Linked DNA regions of Homo sapiens: region 1 is linked to region 2. Evidence: fine-mapped QTL for protein levels in blood plasma. Region 2 holds a variant in brackets. A gene starts in the other region. All regions are shown on their forward strands.

Region 1 (5,535 bases), not on the chromosome of region 2:
ATTTTAAAATTAAATATGTAACTTGCATTGTATTTCTATTAGACACACTGGATTCAACAAAACCTAGATTGATCTATCTCCACAGCCTTGTTCTTCACTCCTGAGCAGAAATTTAACTTCCATGCTGATACTAAAGTTGTTCCCATATGTGATGGGAACCAAACACAAGTGTACCTGGGTTGGGCTTCTAGGGAAAGAGGAACTCTATTCTCTTTCTACAGGCAGGTGCAACTGTGCATGTATACATATGCTGGGAGTGCCATTGTTTTATGAATAAGGAAACAAAATGCTGTGTGGCACACCCAGTGTCACAGGCCCTCTTACCGTGCAGTGGAAGAGGTGGAATTTAAACCCAAGACTGCCTGACACCAAAGGCTGGACTCTTCCCCTGCTTCCTCTCCCAGGGCTCCCATACTCCACAGCCTAGGAGAAGGCCAGCTCAGGTTGTTTGAGACTGGGTTGAAACCCAGGTGCATAAGTGGTGGTGCACGATTTCCATGTTATTGGATCTTTTTATCTGTTTGAGTCCTGCCTTTTATTTTAGTTGCACTCATGGCCTTCACCTATATAAGTCTAATATATTCCTCAGGTCCCAGACCATTCTCCTCCTCTTTGTTCTGCATCCTCAGGCCCCAGATCCTTCTCAACCTCTTTCTGTACGTTGCTCAAGCTCAATGAATGTTTGTCTCCTCACTGGCTGAAGCTAAACCTTTGTTGTGCCCCAGAATCTGAATGTCTGGTTTCTGTACCCATTTTGCTAGTATCGTTCCTATTTGAAAACAATGCCTACAGCCCACATCCACAGAGCTGGGATCTTTAGATTTGGGTTTTTCAATCAATCCTCAAAAACTATTTCTCTCCAGAAATTAATTAGGGCTGTGCCTCAGTTAGTTTTATGTAGTTATAACAGAATATCAGAGACCAGGGAATTTATAATGAACAGAAATTACTTTGGCTCATGGTTTGGGGGGCTGGGAAGTCTAAGATCGAGGGGCTATACCTGCTGAGAGCCTTCATGCTACATCATAACATGGTGGAAGGCATCACACAGGTGAAAGGAAGAGAGAAGGGGACCAAACACATCCTTTTATCAGGAACTCACTTTCAAGATAATGGCATATTCCATTCATGAGGGTGGAGCCCTCATCAGGATAGGATAATCCTCTCAGCATTACACAATAGCCACCACTGTGTACCAGCAAGCACACAGAAGGATTCAGCAGTTCCTAAACTTATTTGAATGCAGAATCCTTGGACAGGGACAGGAAGGAAGAGAAGGGCTAGGAGTAGGGAGAGAGTTAGGGGGTGGTTACTCACCTCATGGACTAGGGCTTTATAGAATGCCCTTCATGATAACCTCTTCTAGAGGCTTCTTTCCCATTTTGTCTCTTTTCTCTCATGACAAACTACTGCTGATATGTGTTTTTTGTTGAAATACAGTTTTTAAAAGATAATTGTCTTTTGTATGGTCCCAATAAGTAGAACCTTTCTGAATCACAAATAGAAGCTAAAAAAAAAAAAAAAAAAAGAAGGCAAGAGTCCCAACCAATGTGTTGCCACCCACCTGCCCTTCAGTATCTTTCTTTTAGCAAGAGTATGGGGCTTTAGTCTCTTAATGAGCTTGCTTCCATACATATGCATAAAAGGAAGAATAGGCTTGAAATACAATGTGAGAACTTTTTATATCTCTTTGACTTTTTCCCCTTAAGTAAAGTCATTGTTTAAAAATAACTTAAATGATGATAAGTAGAACATTTTCCACCCAGATGGCCAAAGTGCTTAAGGAATCTCAACTGTGCTTCTGGCAGATGACTGTGGGGTTCAACTACCTCCCTGATCTAACAAGGGCTTTGCACACAGAGTGTCAGCCAGGAAGTCTGAATTCACCAAGCACCACTGGGACATAAGATAACTATTAGAGTGGCCAAGGAGACCTCCACAGCAAAGGTGTTAGGGGAGAGGGGGAGAATGGGACAGTCCTCCATATTCCTATTCAGGAGGGGACCTGCAAATCAGAATCTAATCATAAGAGCCTTGAACAAATGTTATGATTTCTCAGGAAACAGTTGGGAAACTTAAATTCATTTGTATGTACAGGTGGATATGAGGTTGCTCAAGGGTCTAAGGTTAGAATCATTGGGAAATGCTATCCAAAGTACTGACTTAGGAAAATCCAAGTTCAGAATTCAAGGTGAACTTGGTTAGCCCTTCCAGTTGTAACAAAACCGCTCAAGTCTGCCTTAAAGAGCCTTACAAGCCAGCCAGTCCCTGCAGCTCCACAAACTGACCCATCCTGGGCCTTGTTCTCCACAGAATGGGTCTGCTCCTTCCCCTGGCACTCTGCATCCTAGTCCTGTGCTGCGGAGCAATGTCTCCACCCCAGCTGGCCCTCAACCCCTCGGCTCTGCTCTCCCGGGGCTGCAATGACTCAGATGTGCTGGCAGTTGCAGGCTTTGCCCTGCGGGATATTAACAAAGACAGAAAGGATGGCTATGTGCTGAGACTCAACCGAGTGAACGACGCCCAGGAATACAGACGGGCAAGTAGGGACAGTTCCCACTCTGGGGCAGGGATGTGGGCAAGCTGGAGAGACTGGCCAGGGTGAGGGAACCCAGAGACACCCTGGCAGGTGTTTTCTGTATTGGAAGCCCTGCCGAGAACTCTCTGTTCTCCTCTGCCAGGGTCAGCAACAACGCACTTATTGTTAGTAAAAACAAGTGTTAACAGTGATCCTACTCTGACACTTGTGTCAGATTTAATGGTTTACGGGGAATCTTCACAAATATTCTTTGGCTTTGCCATAAAGCAGGGGTTTTTTTGTGTGGTCTTTCTAGGTTTCTACTTCCTGTGAAATGTATTGCATTTCTCTACCCCTTCCCACAGGGTGGCCTGGGATCTCTGTTCTATCTTACACTGGATGTGCTAGAGACTGACTGCCATGTGCTCAGAAAGAAGGCATGGCAAGACTGTGGAATGAGGATATTTTTTGAATCAGTGAGTGCTTGTTTTTATAAACCATTAAGGGCCCTAGGGAAAGCAAGTAGGTACACTCTTTCTACAGGGTCAAGGGTGCTCAATATCTGTCATCTTTTAAATGGCCCACTTTATAATCTCCTGGCAGGTGCCCATAAGCTTATTCTAATGCTCTAGACAGAACAAAGTTTAATTCATGAGAGGGGTTTCTGAGAAGTCCCATTGGGGTCATGCAGAACAGAATGGAAAAGTTGCCCCAAGTTGTGTTTTTACCTCCAAGACCTTCCGTTAGGCTCTGAACCAGTGTTTCAATTGTGAGAAAAAGACCTGAGGTGTGAATATTCTGGACGTGGGGTTAATGTAGACTGCAGAAGTGATGGAGGTAGAGCTTTGTCTATTTGTTTTATTTTGCTTTGTTTCAATAAACTCCGATGCCAGGTTTGAGGGGAGGAAAATGGATGACTTGCAGTATGAAAGCTCTCAAGGGCGCCGTGTAAGGATTTCCTGAAACCACAGAGCATAATAAAGGGCCTCAGAATTAATCTTCTAAAGATGATCATAGAAGAGACTTGAAAATAGATAATCCATTTCATTTCATTCTTAATTATCCTGGGATGATTTTCAGTAATTGATATAAAACTTTACAGTGTGAGTACAGAATAGTGATGTAAGTGTTTAGAAGAAAACTATTTGATCAAGATATTTTCCTAATCATGTAGCCAATTGGTCAAACTGTACCCAACTTGATTTTGAAAAGTGAATATCCTGTTGTGAATTATATTTGTTATGGTGACACTAGCTACTAAAACACAGACACAAAAACTGTATACTCACTCTAACATGATAGAAGTTCATTTCTCACGCATGTAAAGTTGAAAGTAGAAGTTCCTGATTAGATGGGTGCTTTGCTCCAGGGGTGATTTGAGACCCAAGTTTATTCCACACTCTGGCTCTAGACTCTGCAGCCTCAGCTCACGACTTCCATGGTTACCTGCTCATCTGCATCAAGCTGTGCACAGAGAAAGAGCATAGAGGACAGTGAGAACGTGGGAGACCCTTATGAGCCAGATCTGGAAATGGTTACACCTCACTTCTGCTCACCTTCCTGTGGTTAGAACTCAATTATACACAGTCACACGTGTTGGGGAGGCTTGGAAACATATTCTAGCTGTGTCCTAGGGAAAGGTTAAACAGTTTGATCATCAACTGCAGTTCCTCCCAGCCAAAACCACAGAATTTGATCTTAAGTTTCTAACTACTTTAAAAGAAAATGTCTGACTTTAATTTTGGAGGTATTTTAAAAGCTCATAGTTGCATTCGCTATGTCATAAAATGCATTTGTTGGTTTCAGGTTTATGGTCAATGCAAAGCAATATTTTATATGAACAACCCAAGTAGAGTTCTCTATTTAGCTGCTTATAACTGTACTCTTCGCCCAGGTAAGAAATCACTACGATTTTGTTAGTTTTAATAAAGGATGGAAAAGAGTACTTAACCAGGTCTTTGCCAAGAATGTATAGGGTATCTCTCATTCTTATTTTCTGTTTATTCTTAATGCCAGTTTCTTAATATTTCCAGTACTTACCTCCTTACTGAAATTCATACTATACTGCTCCTCTTCCCACAATTAATCTTACTAAACTACCTCTACATTTATATGCTGCATCAGATCTTACATTTTCAGTCTGACATAAATGGTATAATTTCTATGACTGTTCCCTCAGGCTTCCTTTCTTGCTATCTCTGCCATTATTTCCCAGACTACACCAACTCTTCACTCCATTCTACTGGATGCCACCCTGTTTTCTGAACATGCACTGCAATTTCCAGTCTCTGTGTCTTGCTTGTGCCTCTCCCTCTGCTGAGCATGCCCTCCCCTGATGACCTCTGACCTTGGGACACACCTATTCTTTAAGGACCAACACCACTTCTTCCACAGTGTTCTCTATTCTAGAAAGGAATGGTGCTTTTGTAATCTGCATTCCTATAAAATTTTGTCTAAACTACTCAGGGAACACATAATGCACTGCCTTGATTTGAGGGTCGCATATCTTACATCATGTAGAATAGTTTCTCCTTTCCTCCTCCTGCTGCACCCTTCCTCAGTTCCCACCAAGTAGAAGGTGTCAATAATGTTGTTAAGTAAATAATTGGACTAGAAATGAGGCTGAAACTTAATGACACTTGAAATATGCACATGCATTCATTTGGGACCTTCCTTTTTTCAAGGGAAGGTCTTTGGAAAGAGAGCATCCACAGTGCAGGAAAACAGAATTTGGTCCCCTGTCGAACAACTACGTGCGTGTCGCTCCCCTGGTGGATCCTGTGCAAGTGTAGATTCTGATTCCACAGGTCTTGGTCAGGACCTGAGATCCTGCATCTCTAATAAGCTCCAGGAGATAAGAATGCTGCTGGTTGCTTTGAATAACAAGGCAAGCGAGCAAACATTTTGTTAGGCACAGTTTAAGGTTCCTGGTTGTGAAGGCAAGATTCACAGAACAGCAAGTAGTAAACAGTCTCAGGACTTAAATGGAAGTCATAAGTATCAGAGCTATGGGAGGT
Region 2 (5,000 bases):
TTGAGGACTGGATGGCCCTTGTATGACCATCTTCTGGGAAGCAGGAGAAACAGGGTCCTTGACAGGACTAATGGGCTTCATAGGCTGTTGACTCTGCCTGATTGTATGGTCACCCTCCAATTTTTCTTTCTCCTCTTCTCCTTGAGAACTTGGAAAGTGGAGCAAGTTCCCCCTGAAAATGCAACATATAAAGAAGCCATGTCAATTAAGCAAGTGTATGTGTGAACGTGTGTGTGTGCGTGTGCATGTGTGTGTGTAGTGGCAAGGGGGGAGCCATATTTTGACAATTTGAGAAATGTAAGGAAGGGAGAAAGTCAGGTAGTCAAGCATTATCACCTTGGGAGGCCTCTCATTATAATTTCACTCCTGTAAAAAAAATAATGGTAGATAGAACAATTCCACCATGATGATAAAAGAGTCATAAAATTTCTTCCCATCACTAGCTATGAACTCTGAAACTTGATGCAGGAAAATGAAGTAAACAAAAAGATGTAAACCCATTACTGAAGTCATAGACAATGAAGGGCAACTTAGGGATCTATTTTGAAAAAAGATCAATTAAGTCAAGATGTCTTATCTGGCCTTATGATGGTTCTAACATTCCTTAACTGATTCCTAGCATTCTAGATACTGTTTATCCCCACCTGAGCAATATTTTTAGGAAAGAAAATCTGACTTACAAAGGATAAAGCTGTAGGTAGATTCTAGTTTTGTCAGCTATACTGATATATCTACAACTAAACATTTCAGAATGAATTGGTTTCTCAAAGACAGTTCTTAAGATACAGCCCATTTTTTTTCATAAGTCATCCCATTTGGGTATCAGTGATTCGTTCCTTTATTCCACAAGCATTTGCTGAATGTCTCCTACAAACCACATACCACGATTTCCGAAGTGACTAGGAGCTTTCTTAAATATCCCTAACAATTCTCCAGAATAAAAACGTCCAGGCTAACTCCAAGTCAACAGAAATTTGACATTCATGTCTTATCTATCTTTATATTTAAAACACCTAACTCACAGCTTAATATAAAATAGATGCTTAATACATGTACTTTGAACAGAAGACTGAATGTTCTCTGAATCAATTAATTGCAAAATCTACTCAGATTAAATCAACATAATGCAGTTTTAGGCTCCATTACACGCACAATAGCCAGAATAAAAATAAAAGGAATCCATTCTGAACTGACCATGCTAAGACCACATCTGGAATATCTGTTTCAGTTCTCGGCATGACAGTTTACAAGGCATAAACTGTAGATAAACTCAGAAGGTAACATGAAGGACGATAAGGGGCCTAGAAACTATGTCATATGTTGATTTAAGTATGTGGCCAGAAAAAGAGTTAGGGCTGTCTCCTATTTGACAGAAGCTCTTATCCTTAGGATCTCAGCTTTCCTACGTAGACAGGGTAAAGGAAGCAGGAAGTGCTCTTCAGGGATTGCTCTGCTCTAGATCTTGAAGGAAAAGGAAAAAAGAAGTTTCTGAGGTTTCTATATTGTTTAGCTCAGCCTACCAGAACAGGAGCTCAAAGAGGGATTTCAAATAGAGTTCTAGCCAAGAAGAGCTTAGTATAAATTTGGTTGTTATAGTGTGTGTCCTATCTCTCAGGAACCTCAACTGAATGAGAATATATGGTCCAATGAAGAAGAAGTAAGAACAAGACCACCAGGAGACACCTACCATGAGTAGCACTTACCTCTTATGAGGTTTATAAATGTTCATATATGTAAAATATTGAGCATAGCAGATGCTCAATCAATATTAGATGCATAAGACAATGCAATTAAACAGACTCAGTTCACCTTCAATATCAACTAAATATTCATATTTAAATCTTTAAGACATCTAACATACCAATGGCTGAGCAAGAAGGAAAGGATTCAAAAGCCAGAAGAGCCAGGACTCGATTTTAGG[A/C]ATTCAATTATTGTTGTTTCCTATCCTAAACAAGCTTATAAATTTTATCTCATGCTACAGACTAAATGTCTATGTCCCCTCCACCCCAAGACTTACATTAAATCCTAACCACCAAGGTGATGGTATTAAGAGGCAGAGCCCTCATGAATAGGGTTAGTGCCCTTATAAAAGAGACCTCAGAGAGCTCTCTTGCCCCCAACTGCCATGTGAGAACAGCTGTCTACAAACCAGGAAGCAGGCCCTCACCAGACACCAAATCTGCCAGTGCTTTGATCTAGAACTTCTCAGCCTCCAGAAATGAGAGAAATAAATTCTTTTGTTTATAAGCTATCTAGCCTATGGCAGTTTGTTGCAGCAGCCCAAAGAGACTAAGACACCTCAGAAGCTGTTTATTCAGGTTAGAATACCTGAATTGAATTTTACTTCTACAGCAATCCAATAAATTGTAAGAAGTGCCATACCTCTCTCCCTCTCCATTAGTTCCAGCTATGCAATTCTACTCTGGTCACTATATGCCAGACTTAGAAACTGATGCTAAGAAAGTAAATTTTAGGCTGGGCACAGTGGCTCACACCAGTAATCCCAGCACTTTGGGAAGCCAAGACGGGTGGATCACCTGAGGTGAGGAGTTCGAGACCTGCCTGGCCAACACGGCAAAACCCCGTCTCTACTAAAAATACAAAAAAAATAGCCATGTGTGGTGGCATACACCTGTAGTCCCAGCTACTTGGGAGGCTGAGGCAGGAGAATCCCTCGAACCTGGGAGGTGGAGGTTGCAGTGAGCCAAGATCGCCCTACTGCACTTCCAGCCTGGGTGACACACAGACCAAGACCCCATCTCAAAAAAAAAAAAAAAAAAAAAAAAATCCAAATTGAAATAGGGAAGAATACATCTCCATATTTAACAAATGTCTAACTATTCTATTCTGAGTGTAGCTCTGTTTATGAGGCATCTAGAATCAAATCCAGCTAGATTCCCAGATCTTTGCTCCACCAAGGTTAAACAATATAACCAACATCTTGGCACCTCTATTTTAAAACGCTTTAATAAAAAAGCAAGGCAATACAATGACATCAATAAATTTAGTAATAGCTGGGTCATTACTACACCACTGTTAAAATCACATGATTTCAGGATCATCTGATTCCCAAGAATATCAACAAGCTCACACTTATTCAGAATGCCCATTTAATGCACTGACATATTTATTTTAAATATTTCTTTCAATAATGAGCATAGAAATTTAGAAATTATGCTACCTATTAATTTTTTTTTTTTTAATGGATAAGACATAACTCTCACTCTCTCGCCAGGCTGTAGTGCAGTGGCACCATCTTGGCTCACTGCAACCTCCTCCTCCAGGGTTCAAGTGATTCTCATGCCTTAGCCTCCAGAGTAGCTGAGACTACAAGCGTGGACGACCCTGCCTGGCTAATTTTTGTATTTTTAGTAGAGACAGCGTTTTACCATGTTGGCCAGGCTGGTCACTAACTCCTGGCCTCAAGTGGTCACCCCTCCTCAGCCTCTCAAAGTGCTGGGATTACAGGTGTGAGCCACCCCATCCAGTCTTTTTTTTTTTCTTTAGACAGAGTCTGGCTTTGTCGCCCAGGCTGGAGTACAGTGGCACAATCTCGGCTCACTATAACCTCCACCTCCTGGGCTCGAGCCATTCTCCCACCTCAGCATCCCAAGTAGCTGGGACTACAGGGATGCACCACCACACCTGGCTAATTTTGTACTTTTTGTAGAGACGAAGTTTCACCATGATGCCCAGGCTGGTCTCCAACTCCAGAGCTCAGGCCATCCACCCACCTCGGTCTACCAAAGTGCCACCGCGCCTGGCTAAATCATGCTACTTATATCACTGTTACTGATATACCTACTGACAAAACATTATCACATTGTCTAATTACGAAATCACTGAATTTTAGAGGTGAAAGATACTCACTTCATAATGAAAATACAGGTCCTTTTCCACTGCCATTACTTATTTCTCTACACTAAATATAAGTATCATATATTCCATATAAGATACTATTTATTTATTTATTTATTATTATTTTTTAAGACATGGTCTCACTCTGTTCCCCAGGCTAAAGTGCAGTGGCGAGACCACAGCTCCCTGCAGCCTCGACCACCCAGGTTCAACCAATCATCCCACTTCAGTCTTCCAAGTAGCTGGGACCACAAGCGCATGCCACCACATCCGGCTTTTTTTTTTTTCTTTTTTTTCTTGGTAGAAATAGGGTCTCACTATGTCACCCAGGCTCATCTCAAACTCCTGGCCTCAAGTAATCCTCATGCTTTGGCCTCCAAGTGCTGGGATTACAGGCGTGAGCCACCGTGGCCAGCCGCTTCCTTAATTATTTAAATAGAGATAAAGGCCTGTAACTCAAAACTTTTTTCCTGCCTCACGACTGTTCTAAGAGATTATGGAGTAAAGAAATTATGGGGCTAAGCACAGTTGCTCATATCTGTAATTCTAGCACGTTGGGAAGATGAGGCAGGAGGATCACTTGAGCCCAGGCGTCTGAGACCAGCCTGGGCAACACAGTTGAAAAAAAAGTTGAAAAAAAAAAAAATTAGCCAGACACGGCAGCACATGCCTGTAGTCCTAGCCACTCAGGGGGTTCAGGCAGGAGGATTGCTTGAGCCTAGGAATTTGGGGCTGCCGTGAGCTATTACTGCACCACTGCACCTCAGCCTGGGTGACAGAGTGAGACCCTGTCTCTAAAAAGAAAAAGAAATTATGGAAAAATTAATTCCATTAAGTCTGAAAAACTTTAAATTTGGGATGTTAAACATCTCATATTTTGCTCTGTGGGAAACTAAGGAGAAATAAAAAGTCTGTTAAAAGTAAACATGATTCCCAAAATAAGAAAAACTAATCTAAGAAATGAGGAATTATATAAATTATTTTCACCGTAGGGCACGGTGGCTCACACTTGTATTCCTAACACTTCTGGACGCCAAGGTGGGAGGACTGCTTGATCCCAAGAGTTTGAAACCAGACTGGACAACACAGTGAGAAGCCATCTCTACAAAGAATAGAAAAATTAGCCGGTATGGTGGCGCATG

Which allele goes with the higher level. Positions count from the first base shown, and alleles are read on the strand shown. Strength reflects both the effect of a copy and how common the allele is.
With allele C in place of A in region 2, the plasma level of the protein whose gene starts at base 2,253 in region 1 is lower (moderate association).

The links. PIP is the chance, under the fine-mapping model, that this variant and not a neighbour inherited with it causes the effect. Protein levels are from antibody-based Olink assays in UK Biobank. Linkage for the fine-mapping came from a reference panel and not from the study's own genotypes, which makes the PIPs less certain.
Region 1: it holds the start of FETUB, and the variant in region 2 is fine-mapped to the plasma level of the FETUB protein (UK Biobank, PIP 0.94).

The regions. Positions count from the first base shown.
Region 1 is chr3:186,638,147-186,643,681 of GRCh38, forward strand. FETUB (fetuin B) reads left to right here and starts at 2,253. Exons shown (of 7, transcript NM_014375.3): 1 at 2,253-2,539; 2 at 2,884-2,994; 3 at 4,325-4,412. The coding sequence starts at 2,315. It overlaps HRG-AS1 (HRG and FETUB antisense RNA 1), which reads right to left. Exons shown (of 3, transcript NR_187317.1): 2 at 3,808-3,982; 3 at 3,363-3,477.
Region 2 is chr15:43,432,506-43,437,505 of GRCh38, forward strand. It overlaps TP53BP1 (tumor protein p53 binding protein 1), which reads right to left. Exons shown (of 28, transcript NM_001141980.3): 17 at 1-172. Among named protein-coding and RNA genes, the nearest start is that of TP53BP1, 58 kb to the right of the region's middle. The variant A/C (reference allele first, on the strand shown) is at 1,922.